Linked DNA regions of Homo sapiens. The protein of the gene in region 3 interacts with the protein of the main gene of each other region in a biochemical or structural test. Each region holds a gene or a part of one and is shown on either strand. Other genes may lie near its edges.

Region 1 (3,635 bases), on a different chromosome or scaffold from region 3:
GCCAGCATTTGGATGGCCCTACACTTTGCACTGCCTTGTAGATATTTCTGTCACACAACTAGTGGTTAAATAAGCATGTTCTTTAGGCTAGAGCTTTCAGAGATGAAATATTTTAGAGACCAGAGTTAATCTAGATTTCATTTTAAACAATATTCAGATAATCTTTCCTTTTTCTCTCCCCTGCCCTGAAGAGTTTGTATTTATTATAATGTTGTATAACACAGCCCCAATACAATGTGGCTTATATAGGTTTTTCTCTTAGGCTTAGACAGACTCTGGGACTGATATGGGAGCTTCATGGTTCTCAGGCAGACTTTCATTCTACTTTTTGTCTTTGGCAAGTTGGTTTATTATCAAGTGGTTGCTGGGGCTCTATACATCATGTCCAGGTTCAAGGTACAGGATGGGCTGAAGGAGGCTAAAGGCTACTGGCATCCAACCTCTCCTGTAAAAAGAAGAACCTATGGTTTATGCTCACAGTGCTAAAAGTAGGATAGTAAATAAAATAGAGCTGGGTGTGAATGCCAAGGGAGGTTAGGATGACAGCCACATTGGCCACATATGTCGAAATAAGTTGATTTAGAAAAGGATTATTTGATCAAGGATATCCTGGAACATAAAGCAAATAACTACATTTTAGAAATAAGTGAACAGGGCTAAGAAAAGTAATTTTCTTTAAATACGGCCCAAAAGGATTAATTATGATTGGAGTCCTGCTTTGCCCAAGGCTTTTTATTTCATTTTGCATGATAACCTTTCTCAGAACCATGCATGCACAAATTAGGTTGAGACAATGACTTAAAAGTGTAAATGAAATCTCATTAGAAACAAAAACTTTCTGGTTTCTGACATGTTTAAGGGGTGCTCATTGTTACTCAACAATGATTTACTTAGGTAGTTATTGTGATGGGGGCGGTTCTAATGGGATTTCTTTTTCTGGTAGGTTTAGTGGCAACATACAAGCTTGCCATAAACATTTCCTGGGTTTTATCTTCTTGTAAAAGTGTTATTCCACCTTTCTGAGTCTGGCTACCCCACAGAATTCTTTTATCCCTTTTACTCTTAGATTACCTTGTCTGTAATGAAACTTACCCTCTCTGAAGCCTGAGTTGTTCTTCTAAAGTAACACCACTACCACCTTCTTTATTCTCATGTTTTTGGGAGGAATTGTCTACACTCACTGCTATATGTCCTCTATCACCTAAGAAAGGTATTTGCCCATTACTGGATTTTTTTTTCTTACAGAGATCAATAGTGATCAAATTGAACAGCCTATGTCCTCAGGCTGTGTGTTTTGTGGCAATGGAAAAATGACAGCAAAAGAGGGAAATATCCTTGGAATTTAGTTCCTTAAATGGAGGTATTTGCCCAAGTGACTGTCAGTTACATATTTGAGTTGCAAACAACGGGTTGCATTTACCGGGTTTCAGAGTAGAAGCATACTTAGGAAAGGTGGTAGGTGTTCTTGGGCTCTTCAGTGGGGACAGAGGATTGCTTCCACTCTTAGTTACTGGGGTATCTTGTCACCCCAGAGACCCAGAGCCAGAATATCAACACTTTTGAGTGATTGCAGTTTTGTGACAACATAATACTGGTTCTCTCAGCCTCCTTCATTGGATTACCTTCCTCTCTGCTCCATTTCATCCAGTTCCATATTTTCGTTTGTCACTTCAAAGCTAATATTACCATAACAAGTTTACAAATAATCAGACTTCCTGGTTACTTGTTAATACTCAATAAGATAGCCTGCTTGCCCATTTTGAATAATATCAATACATTTCCAGACAAAACATTAGTCATTTCCCCTCAGTTTAAGTGCTGTCAATCAGCTCTCCGTTAGGTACAATGGCGAAAACACTCATCCAGGATCTTGGATATTTAGTGAAGTAGACGTGAAAATTGGATAACTACTCATCAGAGTTTGAAGTGATTAGGAAGGAATTAACTCAGCCAGAGGAAATCTGGGATTTGAATAGGGCTTTGAAGAATGAAAGGTTTACAGAGGATTTGGGAAGGTAAATTGGAGGCTGCGAGGACAAGGAGATGTATGACTGGCACTCGCTCAAGGTTGAGTGGAACGAGTCAAAATAAGTAGGACCCATTCTGTGGAGGGCTTGTCATGCAAGGGTAAGGAATTGGAATGTATACAATTGGAGGCGAATAGAAGTTTTCTGTCATGTTTTAAGAGTAAAACTGAAGGCCATGTGTATGAGTATGGATCAGGTGATTGGGCCACCCAAGAACTTAGATGAGAGAACTGAATTAGGCTGCTGGCAGAACAGAAAGGACGGAGACAGCTGATGGACGGTGCTTGGATCCACAATTGTGTTTGTACTACAGTTAAAAAAAAGCGCTAAGCACTCATTATAAAGCACTTGCTTTAAGCTGTTACACAGATTGGTCACTAGGAGGCATCAGTTCATCAACTACTAAGGCGAAAAGGAAGGCAGCTCTGGACACCCACCTAAGAAGTCTGGATAGTTCTGTGTTAATACTTAACGTTTTCAACTCAAGGACTTTTGGAAACTAGAATCTAGAATATTTCTTCTGAATAGTACTTCAAAGATGAAATAAGGCTAAGAAGTCTAAACTGCACTCTGTGAGACTATTTGTTTATTTATTTAATTATTTATTTTGAGACAGATTCTCGCTCTGTTGCCCAGGCTGGAGTGCAGTGGCGTGATCTTGGCTCACTGTAACCTTCACCTCCCTGGCTCAAGCAATTCTCCTGCCTCAGCCTCCCGAGTAGCTGGGATTACAGGCGCTGTGGGTTTTTTTTTTTTTTGTATTTTTAGTAGAGACGGGGTTTCACCATGTTGGCCAGACTTGTGTCGAGCTCCTGACCTCAGGCAATCCGCCTGCCTCAGCCTCCCAAAGTGTTGGGATTACAGGCGTGAGCCACCGCGCCCAGCCTTGGTTATCTTTTATACCCTGATGAGGGTAACGTGACATGTTCATAATTTACTGGGCTTTAACTTTTTCTTGAAAGATGTTTGACCTTTGGTCTATCCAAATCTTTAATAATGATCATTGTCATGAGTTTCTACTGTATATTGCAAATTGGTTTACAGATCAGAATTTTGTAATCATTATGAATTAAACACTTAATAACTTTCCAAGTTCTGTTACATGTCTTTAAGCCAGTATTGATTAATGGACTTTTAGTCAAGTGTTTGACTATGTAACTGCCAAGTAAGAAACTTACCAACTCAGTTCCATTACTGTGTTTCTCATGCTTCTAAATACTCTTACTAGAAAACAGTAGGATACTAGTTTATATAAACACCTCTCATGATATTAAATTGCATGTTGCTTGGGAAAAGGTTTGTGGGATTTATTTTAGATGTCTGACTATAAAAGCATTTAAGATTCAGAGAGGCCTAGCATGTAGTTATCCATTTAAAAAGTATACCAGAGATATGTTTGTAGGGCAAATTTCAAGTCCTTACATCTCAAGTTTTAAAAAGTAGGATGCATCATGAAAAATCTGTCAAAAGCATTTGAAAAAATTGATATTCTTTTTATGATGGGTATGGACTTCTAATTCAATTCAAGATTTCTACCTATGTTGAGCATCTACTTGGTATCAAGACTTTTTCTAGGTGATTGGGACACATCAGAAACAATGGTCCTTG
Region 2 (7,034 bases), on a different chromosome or scaffold from region 3:
AAATATCAATTGCAGAGAGGTAAGGGTCGGAGGAAAGAATCCTGTGGGGAGACTTACGGTATTCAGGGGAAGGATGACATCAGTAGTAGTGTGACAGCAATAGACATCATGAGAAGGGGGTTGGAAGTGAGCTTTTTTTTTTAGATGAGACAGAGTCTCGCTTTTGTCGCCCAGGCCGGAGCGCAATGGTGCGATCTCGGCTCACTGCAACCTCTGACTCCTGGGTTCAAGCGATTCTCCTGCCTCAGCCTCCTAAGTAGCTGGGATTACAGCCACCCACCAGCACGCCCGACTAATTTTTGCATTTTTAGTAGAGGCGGGGTTTCATCATGTTGGCCAGGGTGGTCTCGCTCCTGACCTCAGGCAGTCTGCCCTCCTCGGCCTCCCAAAGTGCTGGGATTACAGGTGCGAGCCACCGCGCCTGGCCCTGGAAGTGAGCATTTTTACTGTAGTCAGCATAGGTGCTGGGCATGAGGACCAAGAATGAGTTCTGAATTTTGGGGCCTGAGGTGGAGAGAGAGCAGTTGCAGGTGGCAATTAGGAGCTTGGCTTTGGTTGTATCAAGTTTGAATGGTCAGGCTGGCACAGTGGCTGATGCCTGTAATCCCAGCACTTTGGAAAGCTGATGCAGAAGGATCGCTTGAGACCAGGAGTTCCAGACCAGCCTGGGCAATAAAGTGAGACCCTGTCTCTACAAAAAAATTTTAAAAGCCAGATGTGATGGTGCTTACCCATAGTCCCAACTACTTGGGAGGCTGAGGTGAGAGGATCACTTGAGCCCAGGAGGTTGAGGCTGCAGTGAGCCATTATGGCATCACTGCACTCCGTCCTGGGCAACAGAGCGGGACCCTGTCTCAAAAACAAAAAAGTTTGAACGGTCAATGCAGTAAGAGTCTGGAGCCCAGGGGAGAGGTCAGGGCTAGGGGTATTGGAAACCTCGTGGCTGGACTGGGTCTCCTAGTGAACAAACACAGAGGCAAGGAGATCCGAGGACTGAGTCTTGTGGCCTTCTAGCATTTAGAGGGTTACCGAGACCAGGAGCCTGAACACCCTCCCAAGGGCTGGTGGGAATTGCAGCCTCAACTCCCAGGCATCCTGGGGCTCTATCCTCCCACCTCAGCTCCCCCACCCACTCCCACCCCCTGTGGAGAGCTGTCCCAGTTACCATGCTGGTTTTTGCAGGTTGTGATTTTCTTCCCACAGAGGTTTCAAGGAGCTGTAGTCCCAGGCCTGGGAGATCTGAGGAAGCGCACTTCTGGTTCTCTGGGATATGGGGAGCGTGGGGTCAGTGCCTTGATCCTCCTCTCCCCTCGCTTCACATCACCCTTCCCCCACCGCTCTTCTGCAGGTGTCATGGCTGGGTGAAGAGCCTGTGGCTGGGGTGTGGTCAGAGAAGGGCCAGGTGGAGGTGTTTGCGCTGCGGCGGCTTCTGCAGGTGGTGGAGGAGCCCCAGGCCCTGGCAGCCTTCCTCCGGGATGAGCAGGCCCAAATGAAGCCCATCTTCTCCTTCGCTGGACACATGGGCGAGGGCTTTGCCCTTGACTGGTCCCCCCGGGTGACCGGTGAGTCCCTGGGGTGTTCAGGAGTCCCGGGAGGTCGGGGGAGCAGGGTCTGCAACAAGGGGCCGGGCGCTTAGACTCCAAGGAGGGGAGCGAGCTGCGGCCAGGTGGGGCGAGGTCATTTCCTGACTCCCTTCCCCAGGTCGCCTGCTGACCGGTGACTGTCAAAAGAACATCCACCTCTGGACACCTACGGACGGCGGCTCCTGGCACGTGGACCAGCGGCCATTCGTGGGCCACACACGCTCTGTGGAGGACCTGCAGTGGTCACCGACTGAGAACACGGTGAGGGAGGGTGGGGTTCTGGTCGTTTAGTTCTGATGGATTCTAGGCCAGGGACCTAGAATCCTAGGTCTGAGGGAAAAGAGGGCTGGGAGCCTGACGGAGGTTTAGTTTCCAGGCCAAGTCATAGTAAGGGGAACAGTGAAAGAGAGAGTAGCCCACCGCTGGCGCTTGGGCTTCACTGCGGGCTGGGGGGCATTGGGACCACTCAGACTCCGCCTCCCCCAGGTGTTTGCCTCCTGCTCAGCTGACGCCTCCATCCGCATCTGGGACATCCGGGCAGCCCCCAGCAAGGCCTGCATGCTCACCACAGCCACCGCCCATGATGGGGACGTCAATGTCATCAGCTGGAGCCGCCGGGAGCCCTTCCTGCTCAGTGGCGGGGATGATGGGGCCCTCAAGATCTGGGACCTTCGGCAGTTCAAGGTATTTTCCCAGCCGGACACCTGGGGGCTAGAGAAGCTTGCTCCCAGCAGCCCCTGGGATTTGTAGGATTTTTCCTCCTTGAATAGTTTTACACAACCAGAGCTGGAGAGCCCTTAGAACTAGACTCCTGCCTCTTCAGGGTACAGAGGAGGAAACTGAGGCTCAGCAAGAGGAAGGGTGGCGGGTCTCCACTCTTGGGGTCACTCACTCTACCAGGGGAACAGCTGACAAGAGATGGAAGGGGCTGGGGCAGCAGAGACTAGGACTCTCATCTGCCTGTGGGCAGAAGTACAGGTGTCTGTACGGCCAGTGCTGAGAGCTTCAGAGAGTTGTAGATTTCTAGATGCAACTGAGAATCGGGGCCCAGCCTGCTCGTTGTAGGAGAAGACTGAGGCACAGAAAGGACAGGAGCCGCTGTGACATGACAGCCAAGCTAGAGGTTGACATTGTGGAGCTGGGAGGGTCCCTGTGCAGGAGAAGTTGCAGCGTCCGGCATCCCTCTGGACAAAGCCGCAGCTTTGTGTGGCTCTGCCTTCCCGGGCTGCCATGATGTCATCCTTTTTCTCCTCCAGTTTGATCGTTTCTATAGCGTCAGCCCTGGGGAGGAGGCTGGAGACGGATTCCAGCCTCCCAGGCCCACCAGGTCACACAGGGCCCAGCTTGTTGACCATTGGAACTTCAGAGCAGCCTCTCCTAATGAGAGAGACGCCAATTGAGCGGGGCCTTTGCTGTAGTGAAAGTGCTGTCATTCTTAGTCTTTCTTTGGGTCGGCTTCCGGGGATTGTGTTTCTGCCTCCTTTGAGGCCTTTGTAGAATCTGCTGGGAGAGCTCTGGGAGAGCCATGCCCTCCTTTTTTTCTTTTTTTTTTTTTTTTTCTTTTTTTTTGCGATGGAGTTTTGCTCTTGTTTCCCAGGCTGGAGTGCAGTGGCGCAATCTCGGCTCACTGCAACCTCCCGCTCCTGGGTTCAAGCGATTCTCCTGCCTCAGCCTCCTGAGTAACTGGGATTACAGGCATGTGACACCAGCCCGGCTAATTTTGTATTTTTAGTAGAGATGGGGTTTCACCATGTTGTTCAGGCTGGTCTCCAACTCCTGACCTCGGGTGATCCACCCGCCTTGGCCTCCCAAGGTGCTGAGATTACAGTCGTGAGCCACCGCACCCAGCCCATGCCCTCCTTTTACAAGGAAGAAAACAGGCAGGCAGAGGGAAGAGCAGGGGCGGGGGTTTTGCTACCTGAGCTGGGAGGGGCTTCTTTGCAGGTGAATCACAGTTCCCAGCAACCCCTGGGCTGGTCAGCCTTCTTAGCAGCCAGAATTACCCTGTGTCCCTTTCCTGGACTCTGGGCTTGTGAGGGCTTAAGGGGTGGGGCCCTGGCTGAACCCTGAGGCTGGAGAAGGGTTGGGGCTTCTGCCTGGGTCCTCCCCAGAGTCAGGCTGAGGCATTCAGAGCCCGTTCCTCCCATCCTCTCCCTCTAGTCTGGTTCCCCAGTGGCCACCTTCAAGCAGCACGTGGCCCCCGTGACCTCCGTCGAGTGGCACCCCCAGGACAGCGGGGTCTTTGCAGCCTCGGGTGCAGACCACCAGATCACACAGTGGGACCTGGCAGTGGAGCGGGACCCTGAGGCGGGCGACGTGGAGGCCGACCCCGGACTGGCCGACCTCCCGCAGCAGCTGCTGTTCGTGCACCAGGGCGAGACCGAGCTGAAGGAGCTGCACTGGCACCCGCAGTGCCCAGGGCTCCTGGTCAGCACGGCGCTGTCAGGCTTCACCATCTTCCGCACCATCAGCGTCTGAGGCGTCCCACTGGCTCTGATCTTGCTTCCTGCTTGGAAACTGAAGTCGAATTGGGCTCCCCTGGAAGGGGTTCATTCAGGTCTGTTGACTGAGACTGGCCGGCCTGTGGGCTGCCGTGATGGATTCTGTTTGACGTATTGTTCTCTAGAAGGCCTGGCTCTGATCCAGTGACCCCTCTCACCAAAGAACTCGGTTTAACCAGGGCTCTGTAAGACCACTCCCACCCAGAGACTTGTGTGGCCTGGTGTGGCCTGTGTGTCGGATTCCTTCCTGTCAGCTGTGACCCATTTGACCTGTGTCCCCAGAACCCAGTTTTTTGTTTGTTTGTTTGAGACGGAGTCTTGGTCTGTCGCCCAGGCTGGAGTGCAGTAGCACGATCTTGGCTCACTGCAACCTCCGCCTCCTGGGTTAAAGTGATTCTCTCAGCTCAGTCTCCCAGGTAGCTGGGATTACAGGCATGTGCCACCACACCCCGTTAATTTTTGTATTTTTAGTAGAGACGGGGTTTCACCATGTTGGCCAGGCTGGTCTCAAATTCTTGATCTCAAGTGATCTGTCCGCCCCGGCCTCCCAGAGTGCTGGGTTGGGATTACAGGCGTGAGCCACCGCGTCCGGCTCAGGACCCAGTTTTGGCTGCTGGTTCCCAGCAGGGGACTCGGGGGATATACAGTGGCTGCACCAAATTGGAGGTGTGGGTTCCTCCAACACAATTTGCTTCTGCCCGTTGTCTTCCTGCCAGCTGGGTTTGGCCAGGATTTCTCCGTGTGGGGGCTACATGCGACCCTCTCCCCTCCTCCCTGACTTTAGAGGCTGGTGCTGTGTCGGGAGGAAGGTCAGGGCTCCTGAGCAGCAATAAAGGACCAGGAAGAGGCCTGAGGTGTATTTGAGACTCTGGTCCTTTGGCCACAGCCCTATGAGGAAACGGGGTGTGGGGGGAGTTTGGGGGTGGGGAGGAATTTGGCACCAGCTGCCCCCAGGCCGCTAGGCTGGGGGAGGCCACTGGGAGTCCAGTGCAACCCAACCTTCCGCCCACTGGGTGCCGCCGCGTTCTGCCTTCTCTAAGTGTCCTTCCATCTGGAACTCACTCTGGCTTAGTGAAAGGGGCCTCATCCCTGACCCCCACCAGCTTATGAAGGCTTCATCTCAGGGAACTCTGGACCCCCCATTTCTCCCTCCGTCCATCTCCCCTTTATCACGTTTCTTTCTTTCTTCTCTGTGTCCCCCTCTTTCAGAGTCTCCCGTCCCCCACTGCCAGTCTCCCTGCCCCCTAGTCGCTGTCTCGCTCCTCCGCCGCTGTCTCCTGTCCAGCCTGCCTGGGCTGTGGCCCAGCCGCTCTGCCTGGCTGGCCTCCCTGGCTCCCCCTCTGCGGCTCTGAGCTAGCCCCACCCCCGGCCCCCCTCCATCCAGCCTCTGATCCATCTGTGGACTCCGAGGTCGGGTGCCCGTCACACGGCCCCTGGGACCAAGGACAGACTACAGCCCCTCAGCACCCACAGAGGCTTCCCCTCAGCCCTAGCCGAGGAGCCCCCAGCGGAGGGCATGGGGGTGGGCCGCCCCAACAGGTACGTGCCTCCATGCAAGGCACCGCTGAGCCATCCCCTCCTGCTCTGCTGCGTCGCCCCCATCCACCCCTGCCCCAGCATCCCTGTCCTCAGCTTGTCCCCTTCAAGAAGGCCTTGTCTTCCCATCAGTGACAGGCTCAGCGCCAGGAGAATCCACCCCCAGGTTCAGTGCCTCCAACTCTCACCCCATCCCCATTTTATGCATTTTCTCACTGGCTTCCATCCTTTCAGAGAAACCCTCTCAGTCTGTCTGTCTCTGTCTCTGTCTCTCTCCCCCATCTCTGTCTCTCCCATCTCTCTCTGCCTCTCTCTGTCTTCACAATTTCATCTCCCCATGTCGCCATTTCTTAAAACATTTCTTTTCTCCTTTTCGTTTTCCCAATTGCCCTGTCCGCCTCTATCTTCTCTGTCCCCCTCCATCTAGGTCTCTGTCCCCCCCTCTCTCTGGGTCTCTGTCCCCCTCTGTCTCTGAGTCTCTATCCTCTCAAGGTCTCTGTTCCCCTCTCTCTGGGTCTCTGTCCTCTCTCAAGGTCTCTGTCCCTTTCTCTCTGGATCAATGTCCCTTTCCTGCTGCCCTCTCTGGGTCTCTGTCCCCCTCTCTCTCAGGGTCCCTGTCCTGCTTGGTCCCTGTACTTTTTCTTGGGGCACCCTCTCAACACCCCTCCTCCTGCCTATCTCTGCATCTCTTTGTCTTTCTGTAGTCTCTGCTTTCCAACCTGCTGTCCAGCCCCCACCAGTAGGTGGGGAGTGGTGGGGAACACCCCTGGTTTCGGAAGAGTGAGAGTGTTGATTTGGGAGGGTGAGGGTGGGGCCTGGGGGCGGGGCTTCTTGGCCTCAGATTAGACAGTGACTTTGACACGAAGTTGAAGCACCTTAAGCCCTGTATCTCCTTTATATGGAAACATTAAGCTGCTCTCGCAGGTCAGGTGGAGGATCCCTTTCCCTCCCGCCCTGCTTTTGCTAGGGGAGGGGGGTGCCCTGAGCCTGAGTCGCAGCCAGCCTGGGAGCTGGGCCATGTTGGCCGCAGATGGCCCCCTGGTGAAGGTTCCCGTTGGCTTTGGGAAGTAGACAACGGGTCTGCCTCACGGGGCTGAGGTGGGACTGGAGGATTTCGAGGGCAGAACTCTGGGAAGGAAAGAAAGGCTTAGGACCCAACCAGCATTCCCCCTGGCACTGCGGGGGCCTGGCCAGCTCATGGCGTTCCCTGAGCCTGTTCCCCAACTGTGAAAGGGGGTGATGATCTTCACCTCCCGGCATCCTGAGCGGCCAAGGTGAGCAGTGGGGTCTGAGAGTCCAGTGGGGGCTGTGGGCATGTCGGGAGCTCATCACGAGGCCTCGTACATACCAGGTGTGTTTGAAACCAGAGTGCTCTTGAGAAGACTGTGGTTTGTCACTCGGGCCGTGGCTCCCA
Region 3 (7,753 bases):
GGGAAATTATGGTCTGACCATATAGAGGCCGATGCAATAGCTTTGAAACAAAGGCAGAACGTGGAAGGCATGGGCAGAAAAATTTAGGAAACAGAGTCAAGTTGATAGACCTTGGTGACTACTTCTAGGAGCCTGGGAGAAGAGAATTAATTGTGTCCCTGTTTTTTGGTTGAGACACTGGTGGTAGTACCAACCAGGAACACTATTCCTCCTATAACCATAGCCTTCTCCATCTTGGTTGACGGCAATGATATCTTCCAATTGCTCAGGCCTAAAGACTTGGAGACATTTTGATTCCTATCTTTCATACCCCACATTTTATTGGCTCTACCTCCAAAACACATCCAGAATCTGACTACATTACATCCACTACTACCATTCTAGTCCAAACCACCATCATTTCTCTCCTGGGTTACTGCAATAGCTTCCTAATGGATCTTCTTACTTCTATCCCTGTGTCCTCTCCCACAGTGTAGTCTCAACAACTCAACCACAGTGATCCTTCTGACACATTAGTCAAATCATGTCCCTCCTCTGCTTAAAATCAAAGAATGTTTCCTCATTTCACTCAGCCAATGCCAAAGTCCACAGTGGTTTCATTCCATGACTTCCTTTTTTTGAGACAGAACTCTCGCTCTGTCACCTAGGCTGGAGTGCAATGGTGTGATCTCGGCTCACTGCAACCTCTGCCTCCCAGGTTCACATGATTCTCCCACCTCAACCCACCAAGTAGCTGGGATTACAGGCACCTGCCATCATGCATGGTTAATTTTTGTATTTTTGTAGAGACAGGGTTTCACCATGTTGGCCAGGCTGGTCTTGAACTCCTGACCTCAGGTTATCACCTGCCTTGGCCTCCTAAAGTGCTGGGATTACAGGTGTGAGCCACCGTTCCATTACTTCTGACTGCATTTCTTACTACTTTGCTCTTTACTCGTCCTGTCCAGTCACATCTGGCTTCCTTGCTGGTGCTCATTCGGTTCAGTCACACCCCTGCCTTAGGGCTTTTTATTGGAAAATGACAAAGGGTTTCTCTCTGTAGCCCAGGTTGGAGTGCAGTGGTGCAATCACGGCTCACTGCAGTCCCCAATTCCTGGGTTTAAGTGATTCTCCTGCCTCAGATTCCCATGCCACCAGCTTATTTTATTTTATTTTATTTTAAGACAGAGTCTCGCTCTGTTGCTCAGGCTGGAGTGCAGTGGCGCAATCTGGGCTCACTGCAACCTCCGCCTCCCGGCTTCAAACAATTCTCCTGTCTCAGATTCCTGGGTACTTGGGATTACAGGTTGCCCACCACCATGCCCAGCTGATTTTTGTATTTTTAGTAGAGATGGGGTTTCACCATGACGGGCAGGCTGGTCTCAAATTTCTGACCTCAGATGATCTGCCTGCCTCAGCCTCCCAAAGTGCTGGGATTACAGGCATGAGCCACTGTACCCAGCCGCCACCAGCTAATTTTTAAATGTTTTGTAGAGATGGACTCTCCCTATGTTGCCCAGGCAGGTCTCAGACTCCTGGGCTCAAGGGATCCTCCTGCTTCAACCTCCCAAATTGTTTCGGGATTATAGATGTGAGCCACTGTGCCTGGTTTCATGTCAATATCTTTTTTTTTTTTTTTTTGAGACGGAATCTTGCTCTGTCACCCAGGCTAGAGTGCACTGGCGCGATCTCGGCTCACTGCAACCTCCACCTCCTGGGTTCCAGTGATTCTCGTGCCTCAGCCTCCCGAGTAGCTGGGGACTGCAGGCACGCACCACGCCTGGCTAATTTTTTGTATTTTTAGTAGAGACAGGGTTTCGCCATGTTGCTTGGGCTGGGTCTTCAGCTCCTGAGCTGAGGCAGTCTACCAGCCTCGGCCTCCCAAAGTGCTAGAATTACCGGCATGAGCCACCATGCCTTGCTAATTTTTGTATTTTTAGTAGAGACAGAGTTTTGCTATTTAGGGCAAGCTGGTCTCTGACTCCTGACCTCAAGTAATACACCCACCTTGGCCTCCCAAAGTGATGGAATTACAGGCATGAGCCACCACACCTGGCCCCATTTTTGTTTTGTTTTGTTTTTTTTTTTTTGAGACAGAGTTTCAAACGCTCTTGTTGCCCAGGCTGGAGTGCAATGGTGCAATCTCAGCTCACTGAAACCTCCACCTCCCGGGTTTCAAGAGATTCTCCTGCCTCAGCCTCCTGAGTAGCTGGGATTACAGGCATGTGCCACCACGCCCAGCTAATTTTGTATTTTTAGTAGAGATGGGGTTTCTCCAAGTTGGTCGTCAGGCTGGTCTCAAACTCCCGACCTCAGGTGATCCGACCGCCTCGGCCTCCCAAGGCGCTGGGATTACAGGCGTGAACCACTGCGCCTGGCTAATGTTTGTATTGTTGTAGAAACGAGGTTTCACCATTTTGGCCAGGTTGGTCTCGAACTCCTGACCTCAGGTGATCTGCCCGCCTTGGCCTCCCAAAGTGCTGGGATTACAGGCGTGAGCCAGCGCGCCCGGCCGATTACCAGTTGTTTTTAATATAGATAAATACATAGAGATAGATATATCTCTATCTATCTCTATAGATATATATCTCTATAGAGATAGAGAGAGAGAGAGAGATAGATAGAGATAGATAGATAGATATCGGCCGTGGAGGTTGCGGTGAGCCAAGATCGCGCCACTGCACTCCAGCCTGGGCAACAAGAGCGAAACTCCGTCTCAAAAAAAAAAAAGAAAGAAAGAAAGAAAAGAAAGAAAAGAAAAAGAAAAAAAAACTGGTAATCAATTTATTAAAATAGTTGACTTAAGCATCTGCAATGGTGACTTCCACCTCAACTCCTGGCTCAATACTGATGGAAGTAATCTGCTTAACAATCTCAGAAGGACTGTGCAAGTCAATGAGTCACTTGTGGATTCTCATCTGGAAATGATCCCATGTCTTAGAACCTTCACCACAAAGTTTTTCTTGAAGTGATTCTCAAAGTCTTGGCAGGCATTCGAACTGGTCCTTTCACTTTGAGATTATTTTCCTTTGCTCCTCTGATCAAGTCAGCACACACCTTCTCCAGGGATTTTACGATGCGGCTCGTTAGAGTGACTCGAATTCGTGAATTGCCACCTCCGCCTCCCTGGGTGTTTTTCCGGTATCCTTAAAAGCCATGGCTGCTGCGCGGCTTCCTGAGCGACTGGTTCCTCGGCGAGGGCGAACAGCGGTGAGTCAGTAGCAGGAGCGTGCGGATCAGCGATCCGCAACACCTACGACCGCGTCTTCCTCAAAGAGCTATTTATCTATATACATTTTTGAGACGGAGTCTAGCTCTGTCGCCCAGGCTGGAGTGCAGTAGCGCGATCTCGGCTCACTGCCGCCTCTGCCTTCTGGGTTCAAGCGATTCTCCTGCCTCAGCCTCCGGAGTAGCTGGGATTACAGGCGCCCGCCACCACGCCCAGCTAATTTTTGTATTTTTAGTAGAGACGGAGTTTCCCTGTGTTGGCCAGGCTAGTCTCGATCTCCTGACCTCGTGATCCACCCGCCTCGGCCTCCCAAAGTGCTGGGATTACAAGCGTGAGCCACAAGGCCCGGCCACTATTTATATTTTACACTTGATCTTGGCCAAAAGGCCGAGAAGCGATACTATTTATATTTTTATAATACATATCCCCATCTAACATACTACATACTGCAATTACTTATTATATCTTTTGTTTAGTGTCTAATATCCTCCTCCACCTGCACCCCAGCAGAATGTAAGCTCCATAAGGAAAAGAATGTTGATCTATTTTGTTCTCTGATGTAATCCGCTGTACGCCCTGGACAGAACCTGCTGTAAAGTAGGAGCTCAATAAGTATGTGAATTAATGTATCGTGGGAAGGAAAGAACCCAGAGAATAAGGGGCGGCTGAAGCTGTGAAAGGAGCAATTAGGCCTGGCGCGGGGGCTCACGCCTGTAATCCCAGCACTTTGAGGGACCAAGGCGGGCAGATCACTTGAGATCAGAAGTTCGAGACCAGCCTGGCCAATAACATGGCGAAACCCCGTCTCTACTAAAAATACAAAAATTAGCCCAGCGTTGTGGCGGGCGCCTGTGGTCTCAGGTACTCTGAGGCTGAGACAGAGAATTGCTTGAACCCGGAAGACGGAGGTTGCAGTGAGCTGAGATCTCGCCACTATACTCCAGCCTGGGCGACAGAGTGAGACTCGGTCTCAAAAAAAGAAAAAAAGAGTGTGTGTTGGGGGGGACGGGTCAATAAATAGAGCAATACTGTATATGTAAAATACAGAATGGTATGATACCAAGAACACATAGATGGAATGATCTGCAGCACTTCTCAACTGTATTACATTCAACGAAACCGTTTAGAGCTTGTTCTCCCTCCCTCCCCCACTTTCTTTGTTCCTTGGGGAACCCCCACACGGCACAAACCGTGTTTTAATTCCTATTCTCTAGTGTGCAGATAAGTGCCTGGCACTATTAAGTGGTCAAAAGAGGTCGTGAGCAAGTTAACAAATCACTGTTTCCATGTCCCTAACTACTCTTAAGCTCGTAGAGAAGATACTTCCTATCTCTTGCGCTTCTACCTCAACTCCCACTTCGCAGAGAGGGCTAAAAGCGACGTCGTAAACTTATTACGTAATAAGGCAGCGCCCAGAGGCGGAAGAGGCCGGTTTTTGCTCCGGCCACGTGAGGAGGGTGGGCGGGGCGTTAAAGTTCATATCCCAGTGTCCTTTGAATCGACTTCCTTTTTTCTTTTTTCCGGCGTTCAAGATGTCGAAGCGAGGTGAGGTTTTGTTTCTGGAGGATCCTCCACCATCTGTCGTGCAGTGGCTGGCGGATTCGTCAGGAGCGGTGGCCCTAGGCAGCTGGGGCGCTTTGCTCTCCTTCAGGCCGGAGAGAGAGAGCCAGGCCACCGCGAGAGCACTGCCAGGGCCCTCGAAAGTGGCAGTGGGGTGCTGGAGAGTTGAGATGGCAGGATCCCGACGTGAATGTAGTCTGGATACCGCGAGATCGCTCCGCGAATAGGGCTATCGTAATGGGGTTGAAGTTAGACTGGATTAGGCCCTGGTTTGCGCGACCTCTGCGGTTTTATGCCTTGCAGGAGTAATTGCGTTTTGCGAAAGTTAGAGCAAGGGTTGAGTCGTCTAGGTTTCTTAATTTCGATGTCAGAGTGTTAATAGTAAGAAATAGGCTACTTTCCGTGAGAATCGGGTGGCACATGGGGACGGCATAAGTAAAATCCGAGCGAGCTAATCTATAGCGTACAGTCTATCAAAGCATGTGCGGTGAATTACAGCTTGAGTATGAGGGGGAACTCCGAACCATGTCTAGATTGTGATCTCTTTATCCTGTTTCCCTTCCCTTTATATCCACAGGACGTGGTGGGTCCTCTGGTGCGAAATTCCGGATTTCCTTGGGTCTTCCGGTAGGAGCTGTAATCAATTGTGCTGACAACACAGGTGAGGTCTTTGCACGTTGCTATACTCCCCCTTTTAAAAGCACTCAATGGGCCTGTGGCTAATGACCTATTGAGCCGTCAAGAAAGGGGAGAGTGAAAACATCGCTTTTGGGTGAAGTGGCAACATGTGTTGTTTGCTTCAATCGGTGGTGTGACAAGGCGTTCTTGCGGACTAACTGCTTGGGCAGTGAGTGGAGGGAGGGGCTTTGGAAGTGTTTGGGAAATGTTATACTGATGGAACGGCCTGATGGCCCTCAACATTTTTTATTTTTATTTACATTCTTTTGTAGGAGCCAAAAACCTGTATATCATCTCCGTGAAGGGGATCAAGGGACGGCTGAACAGACTTCCCGCTGCTGGTGTGGGTGACATGGTGATGGCCACAGTCAAGAAAGGCAAACCAGAGCTCAGAAAAAAGGGTGAGTAAACACTGAGCCCACCTTAATACTGATGAGTAGTGGGGGGACGCTTTCCTTTATTGGAAAATGGATCAGTTTTCAAGGCCTCAAGTTTGTTTTCCATTGAGAGGCAGTGTGAGATAAGTATCTTAAGTTTTTGCTCATATTGTGTTGGAGGGGGGACCATCATCTTGTCACTTCCATACCTTAGTTGTTTTTTTGTTGTTGTTTTTGTTTTGTTTTGTTTTGTTTTTTGAGATGGAGTCTCTCTCTGTCGCCCAGCCCATACTGGAGTGCAATGGCACGATCTTGGCTCACTGCAACCTCCGCCTCCTGGGCTCTCAAAAAAAAATATATTACAAAACGAAAACAAGCTGCCCGTTGCTTATTTTATTATTTGTTTTTGAGATGGAGTCTCACTTGTTGCCCAGGCTGGAGTGCAGTGGCACATATCTGTTCACTGCAACCTCCACCTCCCGGGCTCAAGAGATTGTCCTGCCTCAGCCTCCCGAGTAGCTGGGATCATAGGTGTGCACCACCACACCCGGCTAATTGCTCATTACTTAATCTCAGGCTCCCCACTCAAAATTTTTCCTGTCAGGTGTATGATTTAAAGGGGGAGGCCTCAAAATACTTGCAGCTTGTGTCCTGTCTGGCTTTAGAACTTCTGGTGTTTGGTGCATTTTAACTTCAGCGCTTGCACTTTTTTCCTGTGCCTGCCTAATCTGTCTCTACCCTGGGATGTCTTGCTCTTCTAAAGAGTTCCTGGCCATCCCTTGATTTACAAATGTGATGTTGATTTGTCAGCCCTGTATTACAGTTACTCCTATTCCTGTATCCACCCCACGATGCTGTCCAGTAGATTTTTAGCCTTTGGGTTAGAAATTGTTTTTTGTTCACCATTAATATCCATTTGAGGGCTGGGTAGCACTGTGATTGTGATTCAGCAATTGCATGGGCTTTTTCCTCTTCTCAGAACACTTCCTGGGTCTGATTGGTGGCCCAGGGAGCTGTCAGAGAAGAGCAGAGCAAATGGCCTTCACTTTGTAGATGAGATGGCAGGAGGGTGGATTGTTGGTCTCAGTCAGTGGTGGGACAGACCAGAGCTCCGAACACTTCAGTTTTAAAACTAGTTGTGAGTTTCCAATTCTGTTAATGTCTTTTTTGGTCCTTGTTTCTGCTAAATGAATACATCCCCTCCCCTTGGAACTTAATATCAATAAATAACAAGCACAGAAATATGCAAAAGGACCAGGTCTACTTGAAGAATTTGTGAGGATTAAATGGTTTATGAGTAGAGGAGGGTCAGTCAGTAAGTATTGGCTACCTCATGTGTGTCCCATTACTAACTTGGTTAGACTTATCTATTTTTTGTGTAGTCTTCCTGTCATAAAAATTCTGTGTAAGGACCCCATGCTAGTATCAGTGAAGATTGTGAATCCAGGTGTGTCTGACTCTACAATAGTTCTTCACAAGCATTATATTTCACTGTGTAGTGATACTTCATTTTGAAAGTTGGGAAAAGCGTCTTTTTCACTTTAGTACAGATGGGTATAAAAGTTACTTAGGACACTAGAAAACAGTTCATTAAAAGTAAAACAAAGCCTGGTGCTTGGGCCCAGGAATTCAAACTGTTTTCCAGTGTAAATCTGAATAGCTTGGTCTCTGCTCATTGCCAGGACTGGGAGGAGTTGGGGGTCCCAGGTCCCATTTCTACATCCCAATTCAGTGATACTGGGATCTTAATAACCTACCTGTAAGGTGAAGTTGGAAAAGGCATAGGCAAGGATAGTTGTCCTGAGAGTTTTACACTTGTGAGAAAATACTGGCAGCTTTGATTTTAAGATGTGAATAGATGATCGTGGTTCATGCCTTTACTCCCTATACTCCCAGCACTTTGGGAGGCCAGGCTTGCCAACATGGCAAA

Evidence for each region. The genes of interacting proteins can lie anywhere in the genome.
Region 1: the proteins of RPL23 (region 3) and NAP1L1 form a complex in vitro, tested with the Homo sapiens proteins (one study listed by BioGRID).
Region 2: the proteins of RPL23 (region 3) and GRWD1 form a complex in vitro, tested with the Homo sapiens proteins (one study listed by BioGRID).

What each region holds. Positions count from the first base shown.
Region 1 is NC_000012.12:76,036,069-76,039,703, reverse strand, and holds the end of NAP1L1 (nucleosome assembly protein 1-like 1), read left to right. Parts: 3' UTR 1-3,119; downstream 3,120-3,635. UniProt on the Homo sapiens protein: Histone chaperone that plays a role in the nuclear import of H2A-H2B and nucleosome assembly.
Region 2 is NC_000019.10:48,448,965-48,455,998, forward strand, and holds part of GRWD1 (glutamate-rich WD repeat-containing protein 1), read left to right. Parts: intron 1-1,348; coding exon 1,349-1,562; intron 1,563-1,701; coding exon 1,702-1,844; intron 1,845-2,069; coding exon 2,070-2,267; intron 2,268-3,743; coding exon 3,744-4,061; 3' UTR 4,062-7,034. UniProt on the Homo sapiens protein: Histone binding-protein that regulates chromatin dynamics and minichromosome maintenance (MCM) loading at replication origins, possibly by promoting chromatin openness.
Region 3 is NC_000017.11:38,850,698-38,858,450, reverse strand, and holds the start of RPL23 (large ribosomal subunit protein uL14), read left to right. Parts: upstream 1-4,729; 5' UTR 4,730-4,740; coding exon 4,741-4,753; intron 4,754-5,345; coding exon 5,346-5,429; intron 5,430-5,455; exon of another isoform or gene 5,456-5,588; intron 5,589-5,718; coding exon 5,719-5,847; intron 5,848-6,792; exon of another isoform or gene 6,793-6,927; intron 6,928-7,753.